2 separate regions of the Homo sapiens genome follow, and region 1 is linked to region 2. The links come from fine-mapping of genetic effects on gene expression. Tissue or cell type: lung. Region 2 holds a variant in brackets; the other region holds the start of a gene. All regions are shown on one strand. Distances are between the middles of the regions.

The links. PIP is the estimated chance that this variant, and not a neighbour inherited with it, causes the effect.
Region 1: PLS3-AS1 starts here. The variant in region 2 is fine-mapped to the expression of PLS3-AS1 in lung (GTEx, PIP 0.98).

Annotation. Positions count from the first base shown.
Region 1 is chrX:115,554,001-115,570,419 of GRCh38, forward strand. PLS3-AS1 (PLS3 antisense RNA 1) reads right to left here and starts at 8,731. Exons shown (of 3, transcript NR_110384.1): 1 at 8,626-8,731; 2 at 8,404-8,530. It overlaps PLS3 (plastin 3), which reads left to right and starts at 7,174. Exons shown (of 16, transcript NM_005032.7): 1 at 7,174-7,260. RefSeq lists enhancers at 7,948-8,723, 12,094-12,658.
Region 2 is chrX:115,520,275-115,536,693 of GRCh38, forward strand. The region is part of intron 2 of PLS3-AS1 (PLS3 antisense RNA 1); the gene reads right to left. Among named protein-coding and RNA genes, the nearest start is that of PLS3, 33 kb to the right of the region's middle. The variant C/T (reference allele first, on the strand shown) is at 7,028.

The sequences.
Region 1 (16,419 bases), 34 kb after region 2:
TAGAATAATCAGTTATAGCATTTAAATATCTGATCATATTCTCTCTCTTTCTCTCTGTCTCTCTCTCTCACACACACACACACACACACATAATGCAGGTAGACACTCATAAATTTACCAAAATTTGGCCTCACATATTCAGAAATCAGTTAAACGCAATAGACTGGACATGACTGTTTCTTTAGAAGTCTGGCTAGTGCTGTGGAGAATTATGGATAACCCTTATAAATTTTAAAATGTGCGCTACAATTTATTCTGCAGGGTTGTTTGTATATGTTTAAAAGACTTTTTTCATAGGAAGCCTCCAATATTTCAAATTACATTCTAATAAAGGTTGAGGTTGAATATTTCACCAAAAAGAATGCTTTATAGCCCAGACACACAAAATGATAACATCAAGTTGTACGTGCTAGTGCACTCACCTACCTTAAATTCTGTGTAAGTTACAGGCATGTTATTAATAATACTTCCTTAAAAGCAAAATGTGATATGTGCCAATTAATTATGTAAATCTCATTGAGGGAAGGATTATTATGGCTCTAACTAAAGCAACTGTCAAAATTACTGTAACCTGGCCAGGCACGGTGGCTCATGCCTGTAATCCCAGCACTTTGGGAGATGGGTGGATCACTTGATATCAGGAGTTTGAGACCAGCCTGGCCAACATGGTGAAACCCAGTCTCTACTAAAATACAAAAATTAGCCGGGTGTGGTGGCGCACCTGTAATCCCATCTACTCAGGAGGCCCGAGAGTCGCTTGCACCCAGGAGTCGGAAGGTTGCAGTGAGCCAAGACTGCATCATTGCACTCCAGTCTGGGTAACAGAGCGAGACTCCGTCTTAAAAAAAATTAAATTAAAAAATTAAAAAAAAAAACCAGACAAACAAAATTACTGTAACTAAAAGCAAGACCTTCTGTAACTTGGCAGTTTAATTAATGTAAGACAAGAAAGATTCACAAGTCTTTTCTTTTATTTTCCTTCCCTCCTTCCCTCTCTCCCTCCCTCTCTCCTTCTCTTTCTCTCTCTCTCTTTCTCTCTCTTTTTTTTTTATTATTATGCTTTAAGTTCTAGTGTACATGCACACAACGTGCAGGTTTGTTACATATCTATACATGTGCCATGTTGGTGTGCTGCTCCCATTAACTCTACATTTACGTTAGGTATATCTCCTAATGCTATCCCTCCCTCCTCCCCCAACCCCAGGACAGGCCCCGGTGTGTGATGTTCCCCTCTCTCTTTTCTTTTCTTTCTTTCCTTTCTTCCTTTTGCTTCCCTCTTTCCCTCCCTCCCTCCCTCCCTCCCTCCCTCCCTTTCTTTCTTCCTTCCTTCCTCCTTTCCTTCCTTCCTTCTTTTCTTTCCTTCTTTCAACAGGGTCTTACTCTGCTTTCCGGGCTGGAGTTCAGTGGTGATATCATAGCTCACTGCAGCCTCAACCTCCCAGCCTCAAGTGATCCTCCAACTTCAGCCTCCCAAGTAGCTGGAACTACAGGCATGTACCACGACCATGTCCAGCTAATTTTTGTATTTTTTGTAGAGACTGGGTTTTGCGATGTTGCCCAGGCTGGTCTCAAATTCCTGGGCTCAAGTGATCTACCCACCTCGGCTTCCGAAAGTGCTGGGATTACAGGCATGAGCCCAGCCCACAAGTCTTTTTAATCACTAAAGTAAGTGTTAAAAAAATATATTTTCTCTTTTAAAAAGATTACGTTAGTGAGATCCCAAGCAATCTTCCTTCCCATTGATGTTATCACTGCACCTTTGTGGTAGGCAAATCCTCAGTTTTTCTTTTGCAGATAAGGAAGTAGAAGCCTGGAAAGAAAGCCCAAACTCAGAAACTTACCTAAAGCGCTCCCATTTTGCTTTCTTATGTTAAATTAAGTTTAGCCTGGTTGGGTGTGGTGGCTCAGGCCTCTAATCCCAGTAGTTTGGGAGGCCCAGGCAGGTGGATCACTTGAGCCCAGGCGTTCAAGTCCAGCCTGGACAACATGGCAAAACCGCGTCTCTACCACAAAAAAAAATTAGTTGGGTGTGGTGGCACGAGCCTGTAGTCCCAGCTGCTTGGGAGACTTGCGGTGTGAGAATCACCTGAGCCTGGGAAATTGAGGCTTCAGTGAGCCATGATCGTGCCACTGCACTCCAACCTGGGTGACAGAGCGAGACCCTGCCAAAAAAAAAAAACAGTATTTCCATACATAGTGAACTGTAACCTAAACAGATGTGTAAACACACTGTAACCCTCACTTGTAAAAATTACTGAGTTTTGGCCAATAAAAGCAGCCAATTGTTCAAATTGAGTTCAAATAAAGCAAATGCCAAGGTGTAACCAATCCAGCTATTGCTGTACCCCACTTCCATTTTCTGTATGTCACTTTTCTTTTTCTGTCCATAAATTCTCTATGAACATGTGGCAGCACCAGAGTCTCTCTGCACCTAGTCTGGTTTGGGGTGGCTGCCCCATCGTTCATTGCTCAATTAAACTATGTTAAATTTAATTTGTCTGAAGTTTTTCTTTTATCACTTCCTAGGAATGAAAATGGTTTTCATTTCTACTTGCCTATATCAAGTCTTACCCATCTTTGTCAAGCCTAGCTCAAGTTCCATTGCACAAAGGATGCCTTCTACAACTGCTTTAGCCCTATTATTCTCATTCTTTTCAGCCTACCTACGGTGCTTCTTATATATTCTATCTTGAATTGTTTTCTCATTATTACAGTTATGTGGACTTTGATCTTGAATTAATATTAGACTATTAATTCGTTGTGTTTTGAGACCATACTTTTTCTATGTTGCTTATAATAGTTATCTGATTGATTAATTAGATATTTAACACCCAGAAAGTCGGGAGAGGGGAGGGTGACACTTTAATTTTGAGCATTTCCAGTGATGATAGTGATCTTTGTTAAATCTACATATTATAAAGTCCATACTGATTAAATATGTCCTAATCCTATTAAAGAGACTTCAATTAATTTTTTGTTTTTTATTTTTTAATTTTCTTATTCTCAGATACTGATAATTTTTTTTTTAACAAGTGAAAATCTGAAATAAGCTTGGACATGTCAGAGTAATTTCTTTATGTGAATGTGCGTGTAAGATAGTTGGCCTGCATTAGCAGGCATTCACATTCATAATAATCTTTAGGTTTGAAAAATATTTGACAATTGCCTATTCACTATTAATATTCATGTCCTATACATGTGTACATTTTGAGTTGGAAACATAAAAACACTCCACTAATAAACAGTGGTAATAACTGTTCAAATCTGTATCCTATGGATCAAAAAAAAATTAATAATTGTCCAGGTCTTCCAAGATTTCCTCTATGCCAAATATTTTAAGTATGAGAGAAACCTTTAAAATCATACTTAATTTTAATAAAAATGTCATCTCACAGCACACTGAATAAAAAGAGGGATTAGGATCAATCCAAGAACCTAAAATATCACAACATGGAATAGAATTATCCATGAATTAAAAAGATGATTTAAAAAAGGATAATTCCTTGAAAATAATCTGATAAAATAAAATACAATTAATTAAAACAGATTAGTACACAATTTTACATTTAGAGACTGAGAAAACAATTAGGTGTGTTAGAAAAATGATTTAGTATTGAACTGATCAAGATTCTTTAAGTTATTCCTGGCTTATATAAAGTTTATGCAGCAAAATCATTTTTTAATAGACTACAGAAAGGAGGTTTTAAAAAAAATGATAAAAATTATCTCAGACGGGGTGAGGAAAAAGAAGAAAAAATAAAATAAAATAAAATAAAATAAAATAAAAAATGGATAAAAAGTTCAAGCCAGTGGTCAGGCACGGTGGCTCACCTCTGTAATCCCAGCACTTTGGGAGGCCAAGGCAGGTGGATCACCTGAGGTCAGGAGTTCGAGAGGAGCCTGGCCAACATGGTGAAACCCCATCTCTACTGAAAAAACAAAAATCGGCCGGGTGTGGTGGCAGGTGCCTATAATACCAGCTACTTGGGAGGCTGAGGCAGGAGAATCGCTTGAACCCGGGAGGCAGAGGTTGCAATGAGCTGAGACTGTGCCGTTGCACTACAGCTGAGGTGACAACAGTGAAACTCTGTCTCAAGGAAAAAAAAAAAAGTTCAAACCAGCAATGACATGTTAAGAATAAAGAATTAAAAATGGATAGAAGAGGAAACTGACAACTTACTCTAGGAAAATTTCAGGGAAAATTTTAGACTATGTACACATAATACATTGTGAGCTAGACTGGGGAGAGTGTTGGGCAGAACAATAGGAAAAAGAGCAAGAAAAAGGGGGATGTGCGTATCAAAAGGAGGAAAGAAAAGTAGTTTGGACAGACAAAAAACCTAAGAGAGATATTGGCGCCTTCTTATGATATCAGCGGAGGACAGGAAGAATAAATGGTTTTCAAAATTTTGTGATATTGACTTTAAGTGATTTATTACAAAGGCATTAGGATCGAAAATTGGAAATGGAAGGAAAGGTAAAAACTCTTAGGTTACTGATTCACAAGGTCTGTGAGAATCCTATATATATTAATAGCTTTTTGTTGCTGTTGTTTAACAAGAATAGACATAAAATAACCATTGGTTCAGCAAACATTTACTGAACTCCTATGTGTCAGGCACTATGCAAGTCACTGTCAAAATAAATTAAAGCCTATAAGCAGGTGGAGGGAACCCTGACAAACATCTGTGCAGGCTTTTTGATACAGATAAGAAAACAATCAACTTTGGGTTACTTCGTGAATGATCCTCTATGAGGTAAATTGATGGCATGAAAAATTATAAAGAAATGCTGTTTAAGAGCTTTGAGCCTGAGGATCCTTTCTTCCAGCAAAATGCTAAATTTGAAAAGATCCTTTAGATTCTGGGCAACACAAAGGTAGCTTAGTTACATCAAACTGGCTGGGTATCTTAATAGTATTCATTAAAATGGAGTTCTACCTGGATTATATAGTGGAGCTTGTTAAACAGGAATCTCAGCTAGCATCCAAATAGGTGCTTCTGTGTTTAGGGTGTGTTTTATCTGTTGGAAAGTTACTGAGGCAATGAGAACTAATGCCATCAGCTAGGTACACTGCAGCTTTGAAACTATGGACTATTGCATTTCAATTAAAATGACATTTCTTGACTGAATTCTGACATCCTCAGTGATAGTGGTGAATGAAGACTTTTATCAAAGTATAGATTCTATTAAGCTTTTAAAAAATTTTATTAATTTTTTTTGTAGAGATGAGGTCTTGCTATGTTGTCCAGGCTGGTCTTGAACTCCTGGCCTCATGCAATCCTCCCACTGCACAGCCTCCCAAAGTGCTGGATTACAGGCGTGAGCTACCCTACTCGGACCAATGTAAGCTTTTTTGAATTAAAAACAGGAACTGTAAATAGCATATACGTAGGATTCTTAATATTTTTACTTTAAATTCTAGAATTTGAAAAATAAACTAAAATTGAATACAACGTAATTGAGACAAATATATCTGCACTGGAAAATTTAGCTTACAGAGTCCCTTCATGCTATTGCTCAGTCTGTAATTTTAAGTTTAAGAGCAGGTGGAAGCTCTTCAGCGGTGACCGACAGACACCATAAAAGGTAGAAAACTGAAAAAGCCTATTTCCTGTATCTAAAAATTTTTTGTAAAGAATTCCAGAAGTCACACCAAACCTTTGGCCAATTACTGAATGCTAGAAATCTCATTTGGGAGCTTACTGTAAATGTGTGTGGCAATGCACTGGCTCCATGTTCAATCCAACGCCAACATGTTGAAATCAGTATTTTTGTGCTGGCCCAAACCTGAACCAGTAGAAAATCTCCCATAACAGAAATTCAATGTTTGTGAAAGCATGATTGCCCTCCCATTTCTTTTTCACCTTCCTGTGCCTTTCATAAGTTCTTCCAGTTGGTTAATCATTAATTAATATTTAACAAGGCTTTTTCCTCGTGCCAAGTCCTCTGCTAGTCTAGCCTTTAGGCAATATATGAACTCCCCAAGTTCTTCCCTTTTAAGAAGCCTTGGCACTCACTACGGATTAATTTCTCTAAGGAAATTCATAATGGCAGATGAAATAGGGGTTCCTTTTCAAGAACATTCCATTTTAAAGCCTCTCAGCATTTTTTCCTGGTACATGTAAAATGCGACTTAATTGAACTAATTTTAAATGTTGACAGAACTTTCCAAGCACACATTTCCTCAACAAAATGGTTACGACTGGAACAGGAAAGGGCTTAGACTTTTTCTTCTACAGCTATCCCACAAGTCAGTCTCTTGACCTGACCCTGCAAAATCCCTCAAACTCTGGCTCTCTGAGTTGATTTTGGATATACGATGAACCATAGGTTTGGAATGCAGATAACCTCCACGTGTATTAATGAAAGAGGTCAGCTATGACGTGGAAGCCATCTCCTGGGCAGAGAAGGAGAAGAAATGGCAGTCTGGGGAGTAGTAACATGTCTCCAAATTTTCTCTGGTGAAAGGAGACTGATGAGAATTGATACCCATTTCCGGTCAAAAGAGTGGAACCAATGTACTTCCAACCACCTCCTCTCAACCCCTCTCCGCATGGACAAACATACCAGACAGGTGATGTGGGCTAACAATTTACTTGGCATGAGGCCAAAGGCTTGAGGGCCCTGCCCTGCCCATATTCTTCTCCCTTGACTTCTTAAGGAAAGGAATGATTGCTGATGTTTCCCTCTGCACCCTTTGGCACCTGGACTGATTGTTGCAGATGTAATTAGGAATGTTCCCCAACATGCCGTTATTCTTCTCACGATTCTGGGAGAAACTGTACCCCTCCCCCATAGACTTATATAGGTGGCATTCAAATTCTTGTTCCCAACTTTTTCATCTTTTTATTAATCCCACAAGATTGTGTGAATGTGTACTCCGAGCCAGGCACGTTGGACTTCTAACTTCCTCTTAGCCCAAGTAGGAAGGGGAGACTCAGGCGCTGGGGACCATTCTCCTCTCCCTGCAGCAGAGTTGCAGTCCCTATCCCTCCTGGGTGCCCATCCCCGTGCCTATTTTCCTGGATCCCCACCCAGTTGATGTGACAGGCTCGTGGCCCAATCCCCTTCCTGGTTCCCAGGCCGACTGCTAGCACCACCCGAGCCAATGGCGGCGGCCGAGGGGCGGAGGGGGCTGGCAGGAGGGGAGGGAGCGCTGGCTTTAGAGCCACAGCTGCAAAGATTCCGAGGTGCAGAAGTTGTCTGAGTGGGTTGGTCGGCGGCAGTCGGGCCAGACCCAGGACTCTGCGACTTTACGTAAGTGCTTTGTAGGCGCCGGCGGGCACTAGGGGAGCGGGTTTCCTGGGCGTGGGCAGGAGTGGGTCCCGGGGAGAGCATCTCGGTTAAGCTCAGCAGGAACGTGCGGCGCACCGTGGGGCGGGGGTTGGGGGAGAGGGAGGTCGGAGAAATTTCAGTTGGAGCCCTCGGGCGCCCGGGCGATCGGTCGCAACCGAAATGGGTGTGAGTGACGGGGAGTTTCCCTACTAGCATCCGCCGCAGACACGTTTTCTGCACTTCACTGTATTAAGTGGTGTTTTCTTACTAGTTGCTCTTAACTTGTTGCCAGTCTTGGGCTGGAGTCCTAGACGCCAGCCCTTGCCCTGATTCCCCTCCGCGGCTGCGGCCCCGAAGTGGAAAGGGAGCGCACAACTTCCCTCTGTCGTCCTTCTCCAGCTACTGCCATCCCCTCTTCCCTCCCGCCCGGACTCAGGAAATCCCGGAGCCAGCAGCCTGCTACTCCTCCAGCCCCCACACGCCCGCCTCGGGTGACCTGGCTGGCTTAAGCCGACCCTGGGGCTCTGGAGAGGGGGGGCCGTGGCCGAGGGAAGGCACGAGGTTTGGGTTGCCTGCCTTCTGCCTGCTTCCCTCCCTTGTCCTTAGCGAGGGCGTCGCGAACGCACCTAGTCTCCCTATGAGTAAGCACTTTTTTTCCTTTCAGTAGGAGAACATCTCTGGGCTAGTAGGACAGTACCTTTCCGTTCTCCCCTGGCCCCACACCCCCTGTCCTTTTTTCAGCTCCTTTGACTTTGCGGCCCCGGGCGCGCGGTCGGGGCGGCGGCAGTCCCGGACCTCTCCCGACTCTTGGAGAGGGAGAGGCAAAGGGGCGACGGGAGGGAGGTAATAGTCTACCCCCCCGCCCTTTCCCCGCACAGCTGCACTTGCCTGTGTTTACTTTTCTCCACCCGCAGTACTTAAGCGCTGTAATGAGAGGCCCGGGGACGCCGACCACCCCCGCCCTGGCTTCTCGCCAGTCCCAAAGTTGCTGCCGCCGTCGCTGCTCCAGTGTGCTGGCGGTTCCGACCGCCGGGCTCCGGGACGTAAGATGATCCCAGCCCGGGAGGTGGAGTGGGGGTTAATGGCATCTGACTCTAGCCTTATGCGATGCTCCTTGCCTCTCACCTGAGCTGCACGATATCCCCAGTGGTGCAGAAGGTTGAACTTTTGCAGAAGGTTGAGCTTGGAGCTAAGTGGGTTGGAGAGCCTCGCCATTTAGCGTCAGACAGACGGGATGCTGGGGGCGCCCGGCCTGTTAAGAGGGATTGGGAGGAGGGAAGGGAGCCTGGCTAACAGTAGGTAGAAAATGTAGGGAAAAGTAAAAACCATTGAGGGGCAAGCACTTACTCCACTTTGCTGGATGTCACAATGGACTGGGGAGCCTAAACTTGATCCTCGAGATGCAGTTCATGGTGAATTCCAACTAAGTGGCTGGAGCCCCACACATACCAGTTGGAATCACGTGCCCCAAGTCTCTGATGGTCACATGACGTCTTTTTACTTTAAAGCTGGAATGTAATGGTTGAGGCCCATATTCCAAAAACCACCTCTACGTTTGAAAAAAAAAAAGGTGGGGAGGAGTGTGAACTAGCTTCTAATCAAGGAAGTCTACTAGGATTTTGGATGAGGGGACCAGAAAGGGAATTTGGTGCTCAGCTTTTATCCAAAACAAAAACAGGAGCTGTTTTTAAAATAAGGGATTGAAATATATGTGAGCTGGGACATGTATCTCCTCTCTTCTTCAATCTCATGGTTTTTCTAAATTTAAAAAACATCTTACTAATTATTTTCTAGGGAAGTCATCCTATTACTCATGCCTCATTTTGTCCCTGAATACTAGATTTGAAGCTAAATCCCACAAGATAGTGTTAAAAAGTAAGGCTCTGTTCATCTTCCTTGGTCTGGCCTATATTCTAATTGAACTGTTCCCTATTTTAGGCAACTACTTAAAGGTAGTAAATAACCTCTTGACTAAAATTAACCACCAGTTATTTGTGGTTTTCAATTAACTGGATTAGAAATCATGCACAAAAACAGTGGATAGTAAATTTGATACATCGAGTTGGTTGGGTTTTTGCCTGTCAGTGGTTTGGTAGAATAATGAGAGGACACTGAAACAACTTTCCCATATTGACCTATACCCGCCCAAGTGGCCCAAGTTAAGGTTGCTTCTGGGAAAACGTGGCAATTTGGCTATTCAGATTATATATTACAGAGTATAGAAGAGAGGCAGAGGAGCCTCTGAGGTCAGGAGTTTAAAAGCTTTGCTTATCTGAAAAAAAAAGAAAAAACGGACCTGGTTGATGCATATTCAGTCTTGAAAACAACTAGGGCAGAAGATATTTAAGAGATTCTGACTTTGTATTCTTTTGCCAAAAACCCTTTGTCTCCTGCAGCAGCCTCTGAATGACCGGAGCACTCCAGTTTCTTGCTGTTCATCCGTTTCTGAGCCTGAAAACTAGAACAACCTTAAAGCACATTGTTCTGACCCCAAGGCTAGCCTTGTGGCACAGATGAGCTGGAAATGGATTTAAGGTGCACCTGAGTTACTAGAGTTAACTACACTGGTAGATAGACCCCTCTAGTGGAAGTGAGGTGATAATATAATTTTAGATCGAAATAATAAATGTTTAACCTCAAAAAAAGGAAGTTATTACCACTCAACTAGGTTACAGTGGTAGGGGGATAAGTTCTTTTTTAAGTATTGTGAAATCATGTCTAAACAGAATCATCGCTAGGCTCTAGTCCACAGCTTTTCATTGTCTTGGGATGCCTACTCATTGAACACCACCCCCAATATTGCTGACTTTTTTTGGTGGTATGATCTAATGAGCCCAAATTTTTATTGAAATTAGGGGGCTGGGAGTCAAATTCTTGATTTTTACTGTTAGATCTAGCAGATAGCAACCCCTTTACCTGAGGTGGGGAGCTATTAATAAATAAATAACACTTTGCCTTGACTTAATACAGACGATCAACATTGAAGTCCAAAGTCTCTAGTCTGATGTAACCATTTAGATTCAATTGATAAAAATGACTAGGCTTATGGCATTTTGGGTAGAAGGATTAATTATAACTAGTGAGTAATAATTTGGGTGAGATTAAGCCTCTTCCACAAGTGGTTACACGCACATTAGACTTTGACTGTGACTGTTTATACTGGCAGAATGTCAGTATCTAGGGCACTATCAGAAACCCAATGAGATTTTTCTCCCAGGAGAACAGAATTCTGTTACTGAAAATAAAAGGGCAGCTTGGCCATGGTGCTTGAGCACCAAAGTGGTTCTTTTTGGTGACACTGAGAGGGTACAAGAAGAAAGTCCATTTGCCATTATCCCATATTCTGTTTTAGGCATTATTTCTACTTGGATTTTCATGAAATGTACTGACAGTGTTCTTAGCACATATGATAAATTCATGAGTTTGCTGTTGTGTTTGATCTAGCATAATCTATGTGGAATGTATAAGCTGAACTGTTTCTTTTTTGATGTTTGGTACAGATTATGAAAGTAGCTGGTATAAAATAAAATTTGAAAATGAATATCTCTCAATACATGACAACAATGGGGTATCTGTTTTTAGAATCATGTTGTCTTTGGTCATATGGCAATTTTTCTTTTGGTGAAGAGTGATCCAGAAGGCAAAATTTTTGATCTGTGAAAATAATACAACTCATTTAGAAGAAGTCAGCTGGGTCATGTTTTGAGTCTGTATTATTTTAGACAGTGATATACCATATAATGTATATTCAGTGTGTTGGAGGTTTCAAAGCTTTTTGGATACATTACAATGTTGGAAGATTTTTATATACCAGTGGTCATGACTAGCTGATTTTAGTTATGAGAGCGCTTTGGTTAAAGTTATGGAAACAGTCTAATCGTGAAATGTCAGTCTTAGAAGATCTGATCATACTTGGGCCAATTTATTTTAGTTACGGAGGTGAGACAATTTCAGAAGATTCACGATAAATTTAATAATACCAAATTTTGCCTTAGTCTTGACACTTGGAAGATAAATATTAGTGAGTATAAACTGTTTTAGGGATGAAGAAGTATTGTTAGTATACAAAAATGAAAATACTAATTATTTTAGCATGGGTCTTTTAGTCCTTTGCAGTCTGGACAGATAGATTATCTTAAGTAAATCATTGAACTTGCCCTCAGAGGAATTAGATTCTAGATAGTGCTCTGCCATTGACTCATAATTTGACCTTCGGAAAGTCATTTAAAATTATTATATTAATAACTAATTGAGTACATACATGTGCCAGACACCATTCATGCTTTTGTTTATAAAAAGAGAGGATTGCTCAAGCTTTTTGGTTTGCTGGGTTTTATTTTTTCAAATATTCATAATCTGGCTTATTTCACTTATCAGTTGACTTTTCAAACTTTGATGCAATTGCATTGATCCAAGCTAAATACTTTGTTGGCAAATTGATGACTATTCAGGAAAGTGATCACCAGTGGGTTATTCCATGACTAATGTTAGTTCTTTAAAATAAAGAGGTGCCATTTATTTAATTCCTTGACAGGGATTTTTGGTGCATTAAGCCTACTGATTTTATAATATGAGAAACCTTACATTTTCTTAAAAGTTTAGAAACGTATTTGATAATAAGGAGGTAGTGTTGTTTATTGGAAAAGCATTGAGCATAGAATTTAGGGTCTTTTAGTCCTTTGCAGTCTGGACAGATAGATGATCTTAAGTAACTCATTGAAATTTTCTGTGGTCATATCTGGGTTTCACTTTATTTTTAAGCCATGTGATTCCAATCTACATATTTCACAGGCATGGTAAAAGGATAAGTGAGAAACGTGAAGCCTTGGCTTTTAAGCAGACAGGTGCTATATAAATTCAAAGTACTGCAGCAGTGTATCATAGAAACACTAAAGCTTTAACAAGAGTTTACAGAAATGGCAGGGTTCTCATCACGTAAGTCTTGCCACATTTTTCTTTGTCTGTAAAAGTTCTGCACCCATCCAATTTTTACAAGCAAAGGAAAAATAAAGCCAGACATATTATAATGAAAAATAAGAGACTAGGTTGATAACAATAGAATAAAAACCTACATGTGATACTTTCTTCTTCTTCTTTTGTTTTGTTCTGTTTTGTTTTGTTTTAAAGACGGAGTCTTGCTTTGTCGCCCAGGCTGGAGTGGTGCAGCGGCCGTGATCTCGGCTCACTGCAAGCTCCTCCTCCCGGGTTCAGGCCATTCTCCTGCCTCAGCCTCCCGAGTAGCTGGGACTACAGGCGCCCGCCACTGTGCCCAGCTAGTTTTTTTGTATTTTTAGTAGAGACGGGGTTTCACCGTGGTCTCGATCTCCTGACCTCGTGATCCGCCCGCCTCGGCCTCCCAAAGTGCTGGGATTACAGGCGTGAGCCACCGCGCCCGGCCCGTTTTGTTTTGTTTTGTTTTGAGATGGAGTCTCGCTCTGTCGCCCAGGCTGGAATGCAATGGCGTGATCTCAGCCCACTGCAACCTCTGCCTCCGGGTTCAAGTGATTCTCGTGCCTCAGCCTCCTGAGTAGCTGGGATTACAGGCGCGTACCACCACGCCTGGCTAATTTTTGTATTTTTAGTAGAAATGGGGTTTCACCATGTTGGTCAGGCTGGTCTAGAATTCCTGACCTTGTGATCCGCCCGCCTTGGCCTCCCAGAGTGCTGGGATTACAGGCATGAGCCACCGCGCCCAGCCCATGTGATACTTTCTTCTATTTCTTACCTCAAATATTGTGCAAGGTAGCCCGTTAAAGCCATTAATTGGGTGGTGTTTTTCCCCTTTTTAACTAACTACTGAGTAGAATTTTGGTCTTCAGTGGTAATTGTTACAGAGTCCATTGGCTTACCATACCTCATTTTTAGTTTTGTGATTGCCCATAATGGGAGGTTTCGTGTAAAAAACCTCATAAAAAATCAAGTTTTTCCTCCTCATAATTGCAGTCTAAAGGAGGACAACACGCAGGTCTGGGAAACTGCATAGTGGAAGAGATAATCTATACATTTAAGTAGCATGCCATGAATAACACAAAAAATGGCCTGGCACGGTGGCTCACATCTGTCATCCCAACACTTTGGGAGGCCGAGGTGGGTGGATCACTTCAGGCCAGGAGACCAGCCTAGCCAACATGGTGAAACCCCGTCTCTACTAAAATACAAAAACTTAGCCAAGCACGGTGGCACGGGCTTGTAGTCCCAGCTACCCAAGAGGCTGAGGTGGGAGGATTGCTTGAGCCTGGGAGGCGGAGGTTACAGTGAGCCGAGATTGCGCCATTGCACTCCAAGCCTGGGCTACCGAGTGAGACCCCATCTCAAAAGAAAAACAGAAAAACAAACAAACAAACAAAAAAAAACAGAAAATGTGGGAAGTTAAGTTGAAAAATAAACACCTTCAAAGCTATTAACTTGGATTTTCTTTTCTTTTCTTCTTCTTTTTTTTTTTTTTTTTTTTGAGTCAGGTTCTCACTCTGTCGCCCATTCATACTCTGTCCAGTTCATTGAAAATACAAGTCTGATTCCCTTGAGTTGTGATATTCATACACACACGAGTATATATACACTTATGTGTGCATATGTATATTATATAAAGTTTTACGTGATATATAATATAAGTTTTTACTTTCTGTAAAATAAAATTTGTTAGGGCCGTATAATAGTTTTGAATATTCATATTATTGTGTTCCACATTATAAGCTCTAATTACATCGTGTTGCACTCAGATTGACATTCTGCTGTTGACACTGAAAATAACGCTTTCATTCATAGATGAATGTAATTTTCAAGCTTTTTTTCTATATTTCTTAACTTGCTTGAATGTTCCCATTTTTGCCATTTCTTGTTGTTCATTTTAACATTTTGGGGCTTGTGTTTCAGATCAGGAAGAATCACCATTATAGGGTGCAAAGAGTTTGCTCAGAGGTGAAAATGATACGAAATTGTCCCTAGAGCACATCCTATTGCTATACTATTCAACATGTATGAATTAATCTACTGGGAAAGTGTCTTGTGTAGTGTGTACTTTAAAGATGTTTTCAATCACTTTGCTTTGGATTAGAAAAATTCAAGGTAACTATAATTTTAAATGCTCATATTTTTATGTTTATTTTATATGTAGGAAGAGAAATTTTTAAAAATTGGAATAACACTATATCCCATTCTTTTCATTTATTACATTATAAACATGTTTCCAAGTGATCAAATATTTTTAAAAATGTTTAAAATCACTGCAGTATATTTTATATAATGGCTGTTTCATAATTTATTTCACTAATTCCAAGTTGTTGAACATTTGTTTCCATATCTTACAGATAATGCTTCAGTAAGCATTCTTGATCGAACATCATTTTGCACTCTATCATTTTTTAGAAGTCACCAAGAATGTTTTAAAGATGAATTCCTTTGATAGTCCCTGAAATTTAAACATTGGCTTAAACAAAAAGATAGCCTTGATTTCAGTGGCATTTAAAAAAAGAAGGCTGGGCATGGTGGCTCAGGCCTGTAATCCCAATACTTTGGAAGGCCAAGGCAGGCAGATCACTTGAGGTCAGGAGTTCAAGACCAGCCTGGCCAACATGGCAAAACTCCGTCTCTACTAAAAATACAAAAAAACTAGCTGAGCATGGTGGCGCACGCCTGTAATCCCAGCTACTTGGGAGGCTAAGGCAGGAGAATCGCTTGAACCCAGGAGGTGAAGGTTGCAGTGAGCCAAGATTGCACCACTGCACTCCAGCCCGGGCAACAGAGCACGACTCCGTTTCAAAAAAAAAAAAAAAAAAAGAAGAAGAAAAAAGAAAAGGCCATTCTTTATATAGTGTATTGTATCATATGTGACTCTAAACTGGAACTTGTTTAGGTAAAGTATATGTCTTGGAAGTATTTTGGTTTTCTCTGATCTAGTTAGCAGGTGCAGAGCAGGATGAGGTAGGATTCTGTGCTGTGTACAATCATAGGAAGTTCTGTTTTTTGAAACGGAACTGTTAATGGGGGAAGGGAGACACGTTTGTTTTTAAGAAGCCTTTATGTTTAATATTATTATAAAACTCAGTTCAAGTATACAAAGCTTATTTGTGCCTATGAACATTCAGTATCCTAAAGAAACATTTAATCCTGGTGTTGGCTAAATGACTATTTGCTGATATGCCCTTTTATCTCAAGGCTATTAGTTTCTTAAAGTACTTTGATATCACTCAATAAACTACAGTTAAACTCAGAGTTTTACATTTCATTCAGGTTGCTTAAATAATATAACTAAACATAGGTCCAATAATAGTAAAAATTCTGATGCTGTCACTTAATTTGTGCCTGGTTTCAGTATATGGCGATTGCTTAAATTACAAGCACTTGAATTTACAAATATTTTGTGTATTTAAATGGCTCATTGTACATTACATATCCCTCCTGAAACTTAACCCATGCCATTTCACAGACCCTTCCATGGTGTTTTTCTCTTTCCTCCAGTTCACTAGCCTCACTCACCAAAGACTTTATTGGTCTGGGAATTCTATTATGACCCAGAAGTGACTTGGAAGGTTCCTTTCACCCAACAACACATTCTCACTACCTTTCTTTTCTTTTCAGGGGCATCATTTACATGCTATGTTGCACAGTCAGAATGGATTTTAGCATAAAGTATGGGTTCCAATAGCTCTCGCATTTTATTATTTATTTATTTGTTTAGAGACAGAGCCTCACCTTGTCGCCCAGGCTGGAGTACAGTGGCACAATCTCGGCTCACTGCAACCTCCATCCCCCAGGTTCAAGCGATTCTCCTGCCTCAGCCTTGTGAGTAGCTGGGATTATAGGCTCCTGCCACTGTGCCCGGCTAATTTTTGTATTTTTAGTAGAGATGGGGTTTCACCGTCTTGGCCAGGCTGGTCTTGAACTCTTGACCTCGTGATCCACCTGCGTTGGCCTCCCAAAGTGCTGGGATTACAGGCATGAGCCACCGCGCCTGGGCCAGCTCTCCCATTTTATATCTCTGTGGCATTGAGGAGGTTTCTTAACTCTCTGAACCTCAGTTACCCCATGAATAAAATGAAGATAATACACTCACTTTTCACTTTGTTCTCATAATTATTATATGAGAACACTTATAAAGCAACTAGCATATGGTAGGTGCTCAATAAGTATTTTCATTTACAG
Region 2 (16,419 bases):
CCACTCTGTAATGAGAAGCTCCTGGTAAATGGGGATGTGTGGGACTGAAGAAATTGTCAGAAATTCAAGAAATTGAGTTAGAGAAAATAGAATAGCCAAACTACAGCCCAAGGATGAGGCCACTGGAGATAAAACTGTTTAGGACATATGCTCTGGCAAGATACCAGTAACAAAATCTGGCAGCCACACAGCTCTCTGATGACGCTTACCTTTAGCCAGTTTTAATATGAAGAGTTATCATTTTATATATAGCTTATATCCCGCCTTGCTTTCCGTCCCCTTCACCGTTTCAGTTGCTCGTCTCAGGGTCTTCTCCAACTCTATTATTCCTGTCTTGTACATAGACCAGAACTACAAAAAAGAGCCCGGATGCAGACACCTCAAGGATTTACAAAAAAAAAAAAAAAAAATAGAATGACTGCTTACTGGTTTTTCCTCCAATTTTTCTTAATGATGTTCAACATTTTCCTGATTATTTTGACCGAAACAATACTTGGGCAGCTGTCTTCAGGAGAGAGTCTATAAAGGACCCTTGGCACCCTTTCCAGGGATGACAACTCAGAACTTGTCATTTTAACATATGCTTGAAGAAATCAAGAAGTAAGGAGATTTTAGGGGTGGAAATATAGATGTGATTTGAAAAGCCAATATGAATAGAGATAAGTTGTTGGGATGGGCTTGTATGGTAGGAAAAAAAAAAGAGTAGAGGCCAGGCGCAATGGCTCACACCTGTAATCCCAGCACTTTGGGAGTCTGATGCAGGGGGATTTCTTGAGCCCAGGAGTTCAAGACAAGCCTGGACAACATAATAAAACCCCCTCTAAAACTAGCTGGGCATGGTGGCACTTGCCTGTAGTCCGACATATTTAGTAGGCTGAGGCAGGAGGATCGCTTGAGACAAAGAAATTTGATGTTATGGTGAGCTATGGTTGTGCCATTGCACTCCAGCCTGGGCAACAGAAAGAGACCCTGTCTCAAAAAAAAAAAAAAAAAAAAGCAATGGGTAAAGATGTATAACTGCCTGGGGAGTAATTCTGTCTAGCTAGAATATAATGTGAATAAAGTCATGATGGATGCTGGGGTTATAAATGTGGGTTGGGACCAATGTACTCATGTACTTTCTCTTCAAAGATAATTTGTGAAAATGATAATTTAGACCAATCTCAAGGCTAATTTTAAGAAGATTCTGCCATTAACAGTTAAAATATCTCTAAAATGGCATAATAGAATCTGTTCTATTTTCCTCACCAGAATACTGTGATTACCAGATGGCACAAGGGGTATGGAAGACCTTGGGTAATTGACAAGTTGTCAATTACAATTACAGAGTGGTCATATTGCCTGCAAAATTCCCCATCAGCTCCTCCCACTCATCTCTAAGCTCTTACATTACATGTCCTGCAATGCTATGTGGACTGTAATCAAAACTTTTTGGTTTAAAAACTTTCAAAGGTGGTTTTTTTTTTTTAAATTTAAAGTTCTTTTGTCTGAGGCTCCCACTTTTGTATCTACTTTCTACTTATCCCAAACTCTAGTATAGCATGATTTTCTGTTATGGAAATCAAGCAGGTTCTCTCCATTAAGTTCTGTGCTTCTGTGTTTTCATAATCCTAATGTTTACTCTCCATTTAACCAGATTACTCAATGTATCATGAGACTATCTGGAGTCTGTAGTTTCCAGAAGCCTCTCTGGAGGATTTGTCTTGCATTTATTCTGAAGAATGCTCTGCCAGAAATAAAAAGTTGACAGACAGCAGATTTTTAAGAGTATTGGAAGGCATAAAAATATAATGGCTAAGAGAGGAGTTGGATTGCTTCAATCTATAATCCTGGCTTTATCTCTTTCCTCTCTATAATACAGGGTCGTTTCAACTGTTGAGTTAGGTAACATATGGAAACTGCTTAGCACCAGGCATGATGTATACGGAGTGCTTAATTAGTGTTACCTATTATCATCATTGTCAACACTATATAAATAACAAAGTTGACATTTGATTTGTAAGTATTCTATATGAATATGTATGCAAAAGCATTTCAATCTAATAAGCAACCACAAGGCTAATCTTCATCTCATATGTGTAGTCAAAGTACATAGATTCATGGTTTATGCCTCAGATAATTGAAAACCCACCACTTTCATTTAGGTGGCTGTTTGGAGAAAATATGTCACATTTGCATAATGCTTTATGATTAAAAAGAACCTTTTAAGCATATTTGCACTTAAGCCTTATAATAAATTATTAGAAAGATGACTGGACTTTTCCAATACTACACAATAATTGTGCAATAAAACTGATATTAGAACCTAAGTCTTGATCCTTGTATCATGAAAGGCTTCTTTATTATTTGTTAAGATCCCCTGGACCATCTTGACATCACAAAACAAGTATATGTTAGAAAAGTTTTTATTTTAAGAAAAATATCCAAAAGTTTGCAGCCAGACACAGTGACTCACGTCTATAATCCCAGCACTTTGGGACGTTGAGATGGGAGGATTCATTGAGCCTAGGAGTTCAAGACCAGCCTAGGCAACACGGTGGAAACCCCATCACTATGAAAAAAGAAAAACATTTTAATTAAATAAAATAAAAATAAATAAAAGTTTGTATGGCAAATTTATAAAGAAATTTATAAGACCCAAGGTGACCAACGGAATAGGCATAATAGAATGCCCATTCCCCTCAAAGCCTGAAAAAAATGTAGGACTTTCTTTATGACTGCCCAGATTGTAAATTTCATCATGTTTCAGGCTCTCAGACCTCAATGGTCAGAGATACTCAAGGGGAATTTTATTTAAGACTATTAAATGTAAAAAGTAGCTACAGATGGAGTACTTCTATAATTCTACTTCATCCTTGGTGAAAGATATTTTCATTCCATGCTGAGAACTGTTCTTTTTCCATCACTCAGATTACTTTATGAGCCATTTGCTTTGCCAGTAACTACTTTTTTTCCTCTTTTAATGGAATGAAATGGACAAGGTTAAGGCTCATTATCAAATTGGAATGCAGAAGCAACATTTACCATACTTCAAATTTGCCACTGTAGAAACTGTAAAAAATATATGTATATTCTTTGTATAACATTATGTATGTTAATAATATCAAAAAATAATAAAATAAAATCCCCAGAATTTTCTGCTTTCTCAAATAAATTCATTAAGTGTAAAGAACTGGTTTTTAAGATCTTCTGATTTAGACATTCAAAGTATTGAAAGGGTAGATTCCAGATTGATAACCATAAGGGTCTTTAAAGTGGCATTTTTAGGCAGGGCGTGGTGGCTCATGCCTGTAATCCCAGCATGTTGGGAGGACAAGGCGGGTGGATCTCCTAAGCTCAGGAGTTTGAGACCAACCTGGGCAACATGGAGAAACCCCGTTTCTACCAAAAATACAAAATGAGCAACATGGAGAAGTCCCATTTCTACCAAAAATACAAAAAAAAAAAAAATAGCCTGCCATGGTCACGTGCCTGTGGTCCCAGCTACTCAAGAGGCTGAGGTGGGACAATCGCTTGAGCAACAGGGAATATATATATATATATTCTTTTTTACAGTTTCCGCAGTGGCAAATTTGAAACACACACACACACACACACACACACACACACACACACACACATAAGTTTGTTACCCACTGAAAAACTCTGAAGAGACCTTGATGCATTCAAAGCTATGAAGTTTAGTGAAATATTTAAACTCGCTAAAAACAAGCAATTGAAGCAAGATAGATCATGTTTCTTAATATTTTAATTGTCCAAAAGGTTTTGAATTCTCAGAATGTAGAGTTATTCTATCTGTACATGAATACAAAATCAGTTACCAGTCATTACATAATAAATATATTTTATTTTTATTTCAATCCTCCTTCTTCTGTAACAAACTAAATATCAACAAATTTTAGGCTGGGCATGGTGGCTCACATCTGTAATCCCAGCACTTTGGGAGGCTGAGGCAGGCGGATCACCTGAGGTCAGGAGTTCAAGACCAGCCTGGCCAACACGGTAAAACCCCATCTCTACTGAAAATACAAAAATTATCCAGGCTTGGTGGTGGGTGCCTGTGGTCTCAGCTACTCAGGAGGCTGAGGTACAAGAATCACTTGAACCCGGGAGGTGGAGGTTGTAGTGAGCCAAGATCATGCCACTGCACCCCAGTCTGGGTGAGAGAGGGAGACTCTGTCTCAGAAAAAAGAAAAGAAAAGAAAACAAAACAAAACAAAACAAATTTTATTTCTGGATATGAGTAGGTGAATAGATCACACTGATAGAGAGAATGGGGAAAAAGGAATGATAACTGTGTAGCACAGCATCTATTCTAAGGTTCATATTCTATATGGAACAGGGCATACTACATCACTTTTTGTTATTTTCAAAAAATATAAAGGTACTCAAAGTTCAAGATTAATGATTTTATACTATAACACCTCAATGCACTAAAGAAACAATTACAGAGAAATCAATATAACATTATTGGTAAGACATGCACACTGACAACTTGGCTATCTGCTTGATTGAGTATAAAAGTGTGGTGTATGTGCCTTCAAAACAGGGCCTAGATGTTTAGCATAAGAATAAAACTGCAGATACTTTTTTAAAATGCTACTTTATTTATTTATTTATTGAGATGGAATCTCACTCTGTCACCCAGGCTGGAGTGCAGTGGTGCAATCTCAACTCACTGTAACCTCTGCCTCCCCAGCTCAAGCGATCCTTCCACCTCAGCCTCTTGAGTAGCTGGGACCACAGGCATGCAACCATGCCTGGCTTTTTTTTGTTGTTGCTGTTGTTGTTTTTGTATTTTTGGCAGAAACGAGGTTTCTCCATGCTGCCCAGGCTGGTCTCAAACTCCCGAGTTTAGGAGATCCACCCGCCTTGGCCTCCCAACATGCTGGGATTACAGGCATGAGCCACCACGCCCTGCCTAAAAATGCCACTTTAAAGACCCTTATGGTTATCAATCTGGAATCTACCCTTTCAATACTTTGAATGTCTAAATCAGAAGATCTTAAAAACTAGTTCTTTCTTTACACTTAATGAGCTTATTTGGGAAAGCAGAAAATTCTGGGGATTTTATTTTATTATTTTTTGATATTATTAACATACATTGTAGATAGATCTACAATGCCAATTTATAACTAAGGCAATTATCTGAGTCAGACCAAAATATCCACTCTTACCTGCATTTATGAAGTGTTTTGCTCTGCTCTTCAATGCTCAAGTTGCAGCACTGAAGTGGTGTCTCAAGTGATAATAAAATTGATGTTAAACTCTCTATATATCTTAAATAATAAGTCTTAGAAGCGGAACAGGAGTGATCCTCTGTTAACCACCTACTTTACTAAATGAGGAAACTCAAGCCGAGAGAGGTGAAGTGGCTTGCTGCATATCGTGAAACTAAATGTTGGCACAGCTGGAGCACAACTAGGTCTCCAGTTTTACGGTCTAGTGTACTTCTGACTTCAAGAGACTGACTCAGGCCGGGCGTGATGGTTCATGCCTGTAATCCCAGCACTTTGGGAGGCTGATGTAGGAGAATCACTTGAGCCCAGGAGTTCGAGTTCAGCCTGGGCAACATGGCAACACCCTGTCTTTATCAAAAAAAAAAAAAAAAAAAAAAAAGAAAGAAAGAAAGAAAAAATAAGAGACTGCCACAAGTTTTAATTGGTTGCGCCCAAAAGTATAAGATAAATTAATCAGGCAGTACATCTCCATGCATACCAACCATACGGGAGTTCATTCTCAGCAAGGCTGAAAAAAAAAAAGTATATAAAGATTTCTGTTTAATGGAACTTTCTTGCTTTTAAAATGATAACAGAAGTGGCTGGGCGTGGTGGCTCATGCCTGGAATCCCAGCACTTTCAGAGGCCGAGGTGGGTGGATCACTTGAAGCCAGGAGTTCAAGACCAGCCTGGACAACATGGTGAAACTCCGTCTCTACTAAAAATACAAAAATTAGCTGGGTGTGGTGGGGTACGCCTGTAGTCCCAGTTACTCAGGAGGCTGAGACAAGAGAGTCGCTTGAACCCAGGAGGCAGAGGTTGCAGTAAGCCAAGATAGCACCACTGCACTCCAGACTGGACGACAGACTTATTATATCTGGTAGATTTTTTTGTAGATTCTTCTCTGTAGAAGATCATGTTATGTGTGAATAAGGAGAGCCTTAACTGCTTTCCTTCCAGTCTGGATGCCTTTTATTTCTTGCCTTATTACACTGAGTAGAACTTCTAGTATGATGTCGAATAGAATTGGTGAGAGCAAACCTCCTCATCTTGTTCCTGATCTTAAGAGCAACCCTTTCACTTTTTTCCCCTTTATTGATACATAATATTTGACATATTTATGGGGAAATTGTGAGTGCTTCTTACATGCATAAAATGTGTAATGATCAAGTCAGGGTACGTGAGGTATCCATCACCTTGAGTATTTATCATTTCTATGAGTTGGTAACATTTCATGTCCTCTTTTCTATCGAAAAGCATTCACTTTTTTAAACCATTAATGTGATATAGGCTACAAAGATTTCATGGACAACTTTGGCCAAATTGAGAAAGTTTCTTTCAATTTCTAGTATCCTGAGATACTAGACATGACATCTTTTAAAACTTTTGTAGGTTTTTGAAGGTTAAACAAAAGATGAAATAATCATCATAAACAGAAGGACATCAATGTTTTTCCATTAAAAAGATTCCTGAGAGGGCAGATGTTATATATGAAAGAGCCTAAATAGAGTTCTTTTTATGAGACAGGGTCTTCCTCTGTTGCCCAAGGTGAAGGGCAATGGTGCAATCACTGCTCACCACAACCTTGACCTGCTGGGCTCAAGTGATCCTCCCACCTTAGCCTCCCACCTTGCCTCCCAAGTAGCTGACACCACAGGCGTGCATCATCATGCCTTTTATTTTATTTCATTTTTGTAGAAACAAAGTCTTAATATATTGCCTAGGCTTGTCTTGAACTCCTGGCCTCAAGCAATCCTCCTGCTTTAGCCTCACAAAGTCCTGGGATTATAGGTGTGAGCCACCGCACC[C/T]GGCCTAAATAGAGTTCTTATGCATTTCTAGAGACAGTTCAGGCACTTATTGTTGCATGTCCTTCTGCAAATGACTTCAAAAGAAGAGGGTGTAAAAATCATATTTTTAATAAAAAAGTTGAAGAAAGTACAAGAAATGTTTCAAAAGCAATAATTTTTAAAATATAATGATTTTAAAAGTGATTTCAACATCACATATGTCTGCCATAATGGAATTATAACCTTAATAGGAAGATGTCTCAAGTTTTGTAAAAAGGTTTTCTTATGACACAATAAAGCAAATACTAAAAATCAGTAATATTTCCTACAAGTTTTGGTTGCATACCTGGGTGTGGTGGCATGTGTCTGTAGTCTCAGCTATGCTGGAGGCTGAGGTGGGAGGATCACTTGAGCCCAGGAATTTGAGGCTGCAGTAAGCTATGATCATGCCACTGCACTCCAGCCTGGGCAACAGAGCAAGACCATGTCTGGAAAAAAAAAGTGTGAAGAAGATGTATTTTTTTTGTTGTTGAAACGAGGTCTCACTCTGTTGCCCAGGCCAGTCTTGAATTCCTGGTCTCAAGCGATCCTCCCACCTCAGCCTCCCAAAGTGCTGGGATTACAGGCATGAGCCATGATGCCCAGCCTGAATTATGAACTTTTCGTGCATTTGTGAACCCTCTGATGGACGCATGAATTGAATGTTCATTGAAATGATCAGAACAGGTAAAGCATCTGATTTATATATTTTGGGAAGTGAGAGTCTTTAATTACAGGAAAAGTCCACATGAGGTCTACATACTTATTTTTCAAATTGATGTGACTCAGTGCCATAGACTCCCTCCCTCCCCCACCCATTTATACTGAGCCTTCATATTCAGAACAGCAGAAAATTGAGGCACTTAAAGTTGAAGCACTTATCTGAATGATTAAACCCAGATCAACAAGTGAAGAGCAATTGTAACAGCACAAAAAGAGGACCAAAAAGGGGCTTTTTGTTCACTTTTTTTTTTTTTGCAGAGGGGTTCAGGGCTTTAAAATAATTCATTTATGAACTGAATGGTCTTCTTCACAGAAGATCTTTCCATTCATTCAAAAAAATCTCATATGCTGAGGAGACATGCAGGAATGGGAAAAGATGAAAACCCAGGGAATAAAAAGCAAACCTGCCTCCTAAAAATTAACCAGTCAGCTGGAATATTACATAATCAAGCATGGTTTTCTAAGGTTAAGGTTGCTAGATATGGCATGAGGCATACTTATACTAAAAAAAATTATTTGTTGTTTATCTCAAATTCAGATTTAACTGGGCATACTGTAATTTTATTTGCTAAATCTGGCAACCTAATAAGGTGTTATACCCTCACGTCTGTGGCATTTAAAATTCAGAGCTGGGTTTTATAATTTAACGTCCTTTAAAAAACAAAGCATTTTTACACCGCTGTGTGCAGGGGTGGGGGCGGGGGAAACTCTTTCTTCCCTGACTGTAAAAAAAATTTTTGAAACCTAACTGTTCCATGATTTTCGTAAACGTTTTGCAAAATTTATTTACAGAAATTAGATTCTAAGTTCCTATACGATGTCAACATCAATGTAAGACAAAGTTCTAGGATTGTAAGTTTTCCAGTTATCCGTGGATGCACTACCTTCTCAATCAGAATGTTGTATTTATTTATTAATGCCAGACTTTATGTTTCAGTGAGCTTGGAGGAAGGGGAAAAATTCAGGAACACCACTTTGCTATTAGTCCTGGCGCAGTGAGCACAATGTAGGCTCTGTATCTGCTTAGTACTTGCTGAGCAACAGAGGGTTAACATCTTTTTCAATGTTGCCACTCAAATTGCTGCTTACCATCTAAAGTACAGGGTACAGAGTGGAGAGAAAGGCCACAAGGGTCATTATGCTTTGGTGGAAAAAGACGTATCATTATTTTCATTCTATACAATGCCAACAACTCATTTATTAAAGGACAAAATTGGAAATTCTCCACTTTACTCTTGAGGACTGTTTTATTTCCACAACCTGAGGAAAAGAAAGAAGGCTTTACAAATGGATCGCTGCAATTGTCAGGACCTTTTGATGCCAACAGGCGGCCCTCATCCAATTACACTATGCTCATTGTTGAAGCAATTGAATTTCATTTCTTCCTTATGTTGAGTTTAAATTTTTTTTGGATGTTGTCTAGCTGCTGCTGTAGAGTTGAAATATTTTAACATCTGGTAGCTGAGGCTTGCTTCATGAAACCGACATATTATTTGGTCAGTCACTGAAGGAAATTAATTACATAAGGTTTCAGCCTGGAGAAATCTCTCTCTTCTGTAAAGACATATTCTATTTCATTTGTACCACCATGTGTCGTTTATTCCTTCTTGCTGTGTATTATAGTTGTGTGCATGGTTCATCTCCCCTATTCAACCATGTAGTTTGCTCATCTTAATCTGCTCAGCCAGAATTTTATATTATACACCACAGTTTCTTTTAGTTTAGTTTTTTGTTTGTTTGTTTGTTGTTAATACAGACACTCTCCCTCTCTTGCTCAGTCTGGTCTCGAACTCCTGGGTTGAAGCCATCCTGCCGCTTCGACCTTCCAAAGTGCTAGGATTACAGGGGTGAGACACCATGCCCAGTCACATCACATCATAGCTTTTGTTTTTGTTTTGTTTTTTGTTTTGTTTTGTCTTTTTTTGTAGGGGAAGTGTCATAGGTTTTCGATAAATATTTGTTGAATTTGGCCAGGCGCAGTGGCTGATGCCTGTAATACCAGCATTTGGGGAGGCCAAGTCGGGAATTTGAGACCAGCCTGGGCAACACAGTGAGACTCTGTCTCCAAAATAAATAAATAAATAAATAAATAAATAAATAAATAAAAAGTAGCTGGGCGTGGTAGCCTGCACCTGTAGTCCCAGCTACTTGGGTGGCTGAGGTGAGAGGATGGTTTGAGCTCAGGAGTTCGAGGCTGCAGTGAGCCATGATTGATGCCACTGCACTCCAGCCTGAACGACAGAGCATGACCGTGTCTCAAAAATGGATAGATAGATAGATAGGTAGGTATATATATAGATAGATAGATTTGTTGAATGAATGAATGTGTGAACTGTTTATATATATATATTTGTGTGTGTGTGTGTGTGTGTGTGTGTGTACAATGATCAGAGGCATACCCAGATGTGTGGGGCTTCCAAGCAAATATCTCCAAAAAGAACTTCTTTCCTTTTATTAACTTGAAATAAAAGACTTTAGATTTCTGTTATCCAGGACTACTTGGACTCAGAGAGAAGGAGGAGAAAGGTTTTAGCATTTTCCCCATAGACAAAATCTAAACTTCTTGGTCCCCTATGGGTAGATAGAGAGGTTTAATTATATTAAATAAAATTAAATAATAGTGGTAAGAAGTGAGTGTTAACTCTAAGTGCAGTGTATTCCAGAGTCTTAAAGCAGGTCTTTTATCCATCATTAGTTGGATTTTAGGTCAGTGTATTTTTGCATATCTGGAGGATGACTTGAATGTGGCCAGAGAGGATGACAAACACTGGAGGGCTAGAAATGTTACTCTGGAATGGGGAAAAGTGATGTGAAAAAAACCTTGGATACAACCATGGGAAGAACAGTGCATAGTAAGAAAAATGAGGAAGGGGCCAAGTGAGAAAAGTTGGAGGCTAGTTTAGAGATTCCGCTGAGTAGAAGACCAGGAGAATATATTCAGTATTCAAGAGGCTAAGGACATAATTTTGAATCCAGAGTACATTCCAGATCAAAGGCAATGCTCTTCCTTAAAAATACAGGTGGGAGGGAAGGAGAAAACATGAAAGACAAAGAGAATGAAGAGATAGATGATGAGACAAGCAAAAAATGCTAAAACTAGTGAGGAAGAATTGAAGACCCCACAGAATAAGGCTAAAGTAATGAGTTTAGGCACTATACTGGAAAATCGGATAAGACTTATTGAAATTTGATCAATCAATTTAAAAACGATACTGGTCCTTACTATGTACCAGTCATTGTACCAGGTTCTTTTTCTATTATATCTTATTTAATCTTCAAATAACTATTTATTTGAAGTTAATAATAAATAGTAACTTATTTATTATATCTTATTTAATCTTATTTAATCTTCAAATATCTATTTAAATAAAAATGTTTATCTCCATTTTCCAGATTTCAAAAATGTGGCTCATATACATCATATTCAAGATCACACACATAGTGGGAAATTGAGAAAGAATTCCAACTCAGAAATAATTTAAGGGGTTCCTGACAGACTTGAATCCCACATCTATTCCACTTAATGAATGGAGCTTGCCTCAGAAGGGTTCAAATAACTATGCATCTCTATATTTACTGCTATATAGTTTCTTTGTTACTCTCTGAGATTTGATGACACTGGAATATAGTAATTTTGTAATAAATAAAGGCAACTGAAATCCTAAAGAGAATGGAGGTCAGAAGGGAAATTACATTGCTCAGAAAGCATATTTCCCCTTTCCTGAAGGTGTGACAACAGAAAAATACATGCCTTGACTCCCTCCACCACCTCTCAACCCCCATATCCCTCAATTCCCTAATTCTAGGAACTAGTTTTATGTAGTCACCTCTTACAGGTGTGCCCTCACTTCATGCGCCAACCCAATCCAGACTCTAAATGGGGGAGGGGAAAGGCAAAGCAACTTGGTGGCTATTCATATCACTCAGTTCACATCACATCACATCACATCACATCATATCACATCACATCACATCACTCAGACTGAGACATTTTGTTCCACTTTTGATGTAGATCCTGTCAATAACTTGTGCTCCTTCTGACTTTAACAGCTCTTCAACTGATTTCCTGCTTTCTCCCTCCCTTCTCCCTCCCGCTACTTCAACTCATTTCAGGGGCTGTATTACTTGGCCTTAAACTCTACACTTGTCAACACTGACTCACTGGTTCCTGGTGCCACTCCTTCCAGATGCTGACCACTACTAGCACTTCCTCCAATTCTATTATTAACAATAATAAAACTGATGAAGCACTGTTAAATTTGTTCTTTTACCTGGACCTTACAATCATGTATACTTGGGTGCATGTATATCTTTTTTTAAATTGTTGTTGGGACCTTACACGTCATGAACGTAGCTAACTCATTAAGCCTAATCAGATACGTAAAAGAAAAAGTTAATGATCACAGTCTAAAAATAAAATCTGAATTCTAGAAAGTCTTAATTTGCAATACAGAGCATTGAGGTCCACAGAAATGGCTTATTACAGAGGATTCTTTTCCCAAATTAAGAAAAACACTATATGATTCCTTGGCACAGAATTAGACCTTACAAAAAGAAACTCCTGGTACATGTATTTTCTTTTTTCTTTTCTTTTTTCGAAACAGGGTCTCATTCTCTTGCCCAGGTTGGAGTGCAGTGGCCATCACTCCACCTCCAGAGCTCAAGTGATCCTCCCACCTCAGCCTCCTGAGTAGCTGGGACCACAGGTCCCAGGCACACCACCATGCCTGGCTAATTTTTAAAATTTTTGGTAGAGATGGGTTCTCCCTATGTTGCCCAGACTGGTCTCCAACTCCCAGGCTCAAGTGATCCACCCACCTCAGCCTCCCAAAGGGCTGCCATTACCGGTGAGAGACATCACAATTACAGGTGAAAGCCACCACAATTACAAATGAGTTCCTTATCCTCGTTTGAAGGATAAGGAACTTGAAGGATTGTGAGTCGTTCTCAGACACGAGGTTAGCAGAGCTCCTTTTTCCGATTAATAGACCAGTACTCTTAGACTTAAGCCCTGTTGTATTCTGACTATTCCTTTTCCTATTAACTGATACACTGTTTTTTGTTTTCTTTTGTTTTTTGTTGTTTCTTTTCTGAGACAGGGTCTCACTCTGTCGCCCAGGCTGGAGTGCAGTGGTGAGATCAGAGCTCAAAGCCTCGACTTCCCAGGCTCAAGCAATCTTCCTGCCTTGGCCTCCCAAAGTGCTGGGATTACAGGTGTGAGCCAACGCACCTGGCCCAGATCTATCTTTGAACTCAAGTCCTCACATGTTTGTGTTTTGTCCTTTGCCTCCATGGGTGTTTCTCTTTCACCTAGAAATTCTCAAATTTTAGAGGGCACCCAAATCACCTGGGATACTTGTTAAAATGTGGATTCAGGGACCTCAACCCTGAGGGATCTGATTTAGTATGTCTGGAGGAGGGACTCAAGAATCTCCATTTTAACAAGTATCCATGTGATTCTGATGCAGGGAGTCCAAAGACCACCCTTTGAGAAATGCTATTTTAGCTAGTTTGAAACAAAGCTCCAGTCAAATAATTCTGAAAGTGAAAATGCTGGGGTATTATTCAATTTGAGTGTTGTGTTGCCTTGAGTTATAGGGCTCTTACACAATGTGAAATGAATAATGTGGAATGCTGTTCACTGCAATAAAATGTCAACATTTCAAGTATTTTTTCAAAAGACTTCTTAAGAGTTGCTCTTTCCACACACGGCCCTGTTTAAAAGGAATTACAGCTGCTCCTACTTTTATAGCTAGCACATCCAAATCTGCCTATAAAATATTTAAAATGAACAAAGTACAATTACAGCTATATTTACAGTTGTGTGGAACAAATCCATTGCCTTCAAAATTATAAGTCTGGCTAAGTAAAACCAACCAAAAACTCTACTGAAAACAATGGAATTTTTAAGCACATAAGCAATGGAACAAATCACATGTGGAAAATCAATAGATTTAGAATACACAAAAATGGAAAAAGTTGAAGCTCAAAAACCATTACTAAACAAGAAAACCTAAAACACAAGCCACAAACTGGGAAAATATTTGCAACAAACATTAAGAAGGGTTGATAGATTTGAAATATAAAAAAGCTCACGAAAGTCAAAAGGGAACATGGATAAAGAACAAGAACAGAGATAAATACATATGGGAAAGTTTAAGAACTTTATGGTATACATATTTTTTAACATTCAGCGTTTTAAAACACCAGTGATATATACCATTTTTGTCAGTCAAATTAAGAACGTTTAAGGGATTGAGAGAAATTTCAGTAAAATGGATAGGTACTCACAAACACTGCTAGTATAATAGATGGACAAATTGGTGTAAAGTTTTGTTTTGTTTTGTTTTGTTTTGTTTTGAAACAGGGTCTGTTGCCCAGGCTGGAGTGCAGTGGCACAATCACAGCTCACTGCAGCCTCAACCTCCGAGGCTCAAGGGATTCTCCCATCTCAGCCTCCTGAGTGGCTGGGACTACAACAGGCCACCATGTCCAGCTAATTTATTTTTTATTTATTTATTTATTTATTTATTTATTTATTTATTTATTTTTGTAGAGTTGGAGGACTCACTTTTTTGCCCAGCCTGGTCTCAAACTCCTGGGCTCAAGTGGATCCTCCCTGCCTCAGCCCCCTAGTGCTAAGATAACAGGTATGAACCAGTAAGCCAAGCCTCAAACTTTCTTTAAAACAATTTAAGAATTCTTACTATGAATGTTTTTTGAAAAAAAAAAAAATCACACACTTAGTCTCAGTAAATTCCTAAGACTCTAGTCTAATCGGAAATTTAGAAAAAGGACTAAGAACAAAATTATTATTATTATTATTATTATTTGAGACTTGAGTCTCACTCTGTCGCCCAGGCTGGAGTGCAATGGCACGATCTTGGCTCACTGCAACCTCTGCCTCCCAGGTTCTAGCAATTCTGCTGCCTCAGCCTCCCGAGTAGCTGGGATTACAGGCGCCTACCATCATGCCCAACTAATTTTTTGTATTTTTAGTAGAGACAGGGTTTCACCATGTTCCATCATGTTGGCCAGGCTGGTCTTGAACTCCTGACCTCAGGTGATCCACCCACTTCAGCCTCCCAAACTGCTGGGATTACAGGCATGAGCCACCGTGCCCGGCCCATAATTATTTTTAAGATGGAAAAATTGGAATCAATCTAAAGATGATAAAAGAATGATTAAAGAAACAATCCATGGTATATCCACATGACAATGTTATATAGCAATTTAAAATGGTTTTTTCAAGCACTTAATGGTGCTTAAAATGTTTCAGATACAAGGATGCTTTGAAAAGCAAGATATGGCATTTATATATAATATGATCCCAATTTTCTTTTAAAACATTTTTACATGCATATAAAAAAGCTGTAAATAAATAAATCAAAATGCTAACAGCTGTTATCTATGGGTGTTAAGGTTTTTATTCTTCTTTTAGTGATTATCTGTGCTATCAATTCTCTACAATGACCATATGTTACTCTAATAATCAGAAAATGCAATAAAAGGTACTTCAAAAGTCCCTCTGAAAACATAACATAAAGAAGGAAAAGTTGTCAACTTAATTAATTTATAGTTTGCAAGTGACAGAGAACACTCACCACTTATTTCTGTAGCAGGCACTGGAATCCATTTATGGAATGCCAGTGACCTTATATTCTCAAGACAACTGCTTATCTGTCTCTCTAATTGGAAGAGGGGGATATGGAGAAAAGACAACAGTCTCTAGGAACAGATGTCTGAAGGGAGTTAAACCAAGTATCAGGGTAAAGTAAAAGGAAAATTTTACTAACAATCCTTAGTCTAACTATATTCTAATTTAGAACTCTTAGCCCAAAACATTTCTCCTTGTACAAACTGGTATACCAACTGATCAACATAACTAACACCATTAATATTTGAGTGTTTTTTAAAAATATATAGGAAAGGCTTTCCTGCATGAATTTAAAATTGCAATCATATGAGTAATGTAATTTCTTCCTTAAAGGTTAGATGATTGGATAGGGGTTAATTTTGATAATGAAAAGACTGAAAAGGAATATGACACATGCTGGATTACTTCATCCACCCTACCAGAGACCAACTTTGTATGAGAAAATACTAAAGAATCTTAGTCAGGCCTCCATATTAATTTTGTATTGGTAATGCTTGATAGAGAGATCACGGGACATAGATAATTCCAGTACACTATGTTCCAGCTGAATACCCAACTAGAACCCAAATGTCTTCATATTAAAATCAGTATGGCAAATGGCCCCTTCTTGGTTGCTAGGCAAACAAAAACAAACTGGGGGTCGCTTCAGGGAATCTGGGAGGAAGGCAGAGCCAAGGTTTTCTCCCAGGTCCATGGGAGGTCATGACTTGAGCATTCCCAAACTGAAAGGGGGAAATTAGATTTGGTGAATTTCATTCTCCATATTAAAAGGATAGGTTCAAAATTGAGAGATTTCATAGGTTGATGCACTATATCTAACTGATCAAATCTCTGCCCAGGACTAGATATGCCAGCTGACAACTGGGTAGCCACTATATACAATGTATATTGTAGCTGGATTAAGGCAATGAATGAAAGAACTAGCAAAGAGTTAGCTAAGAACACTTTAGCAAAGATGAGTCTATTTTATTTAAACCTATCCTTTGGAAGTTAG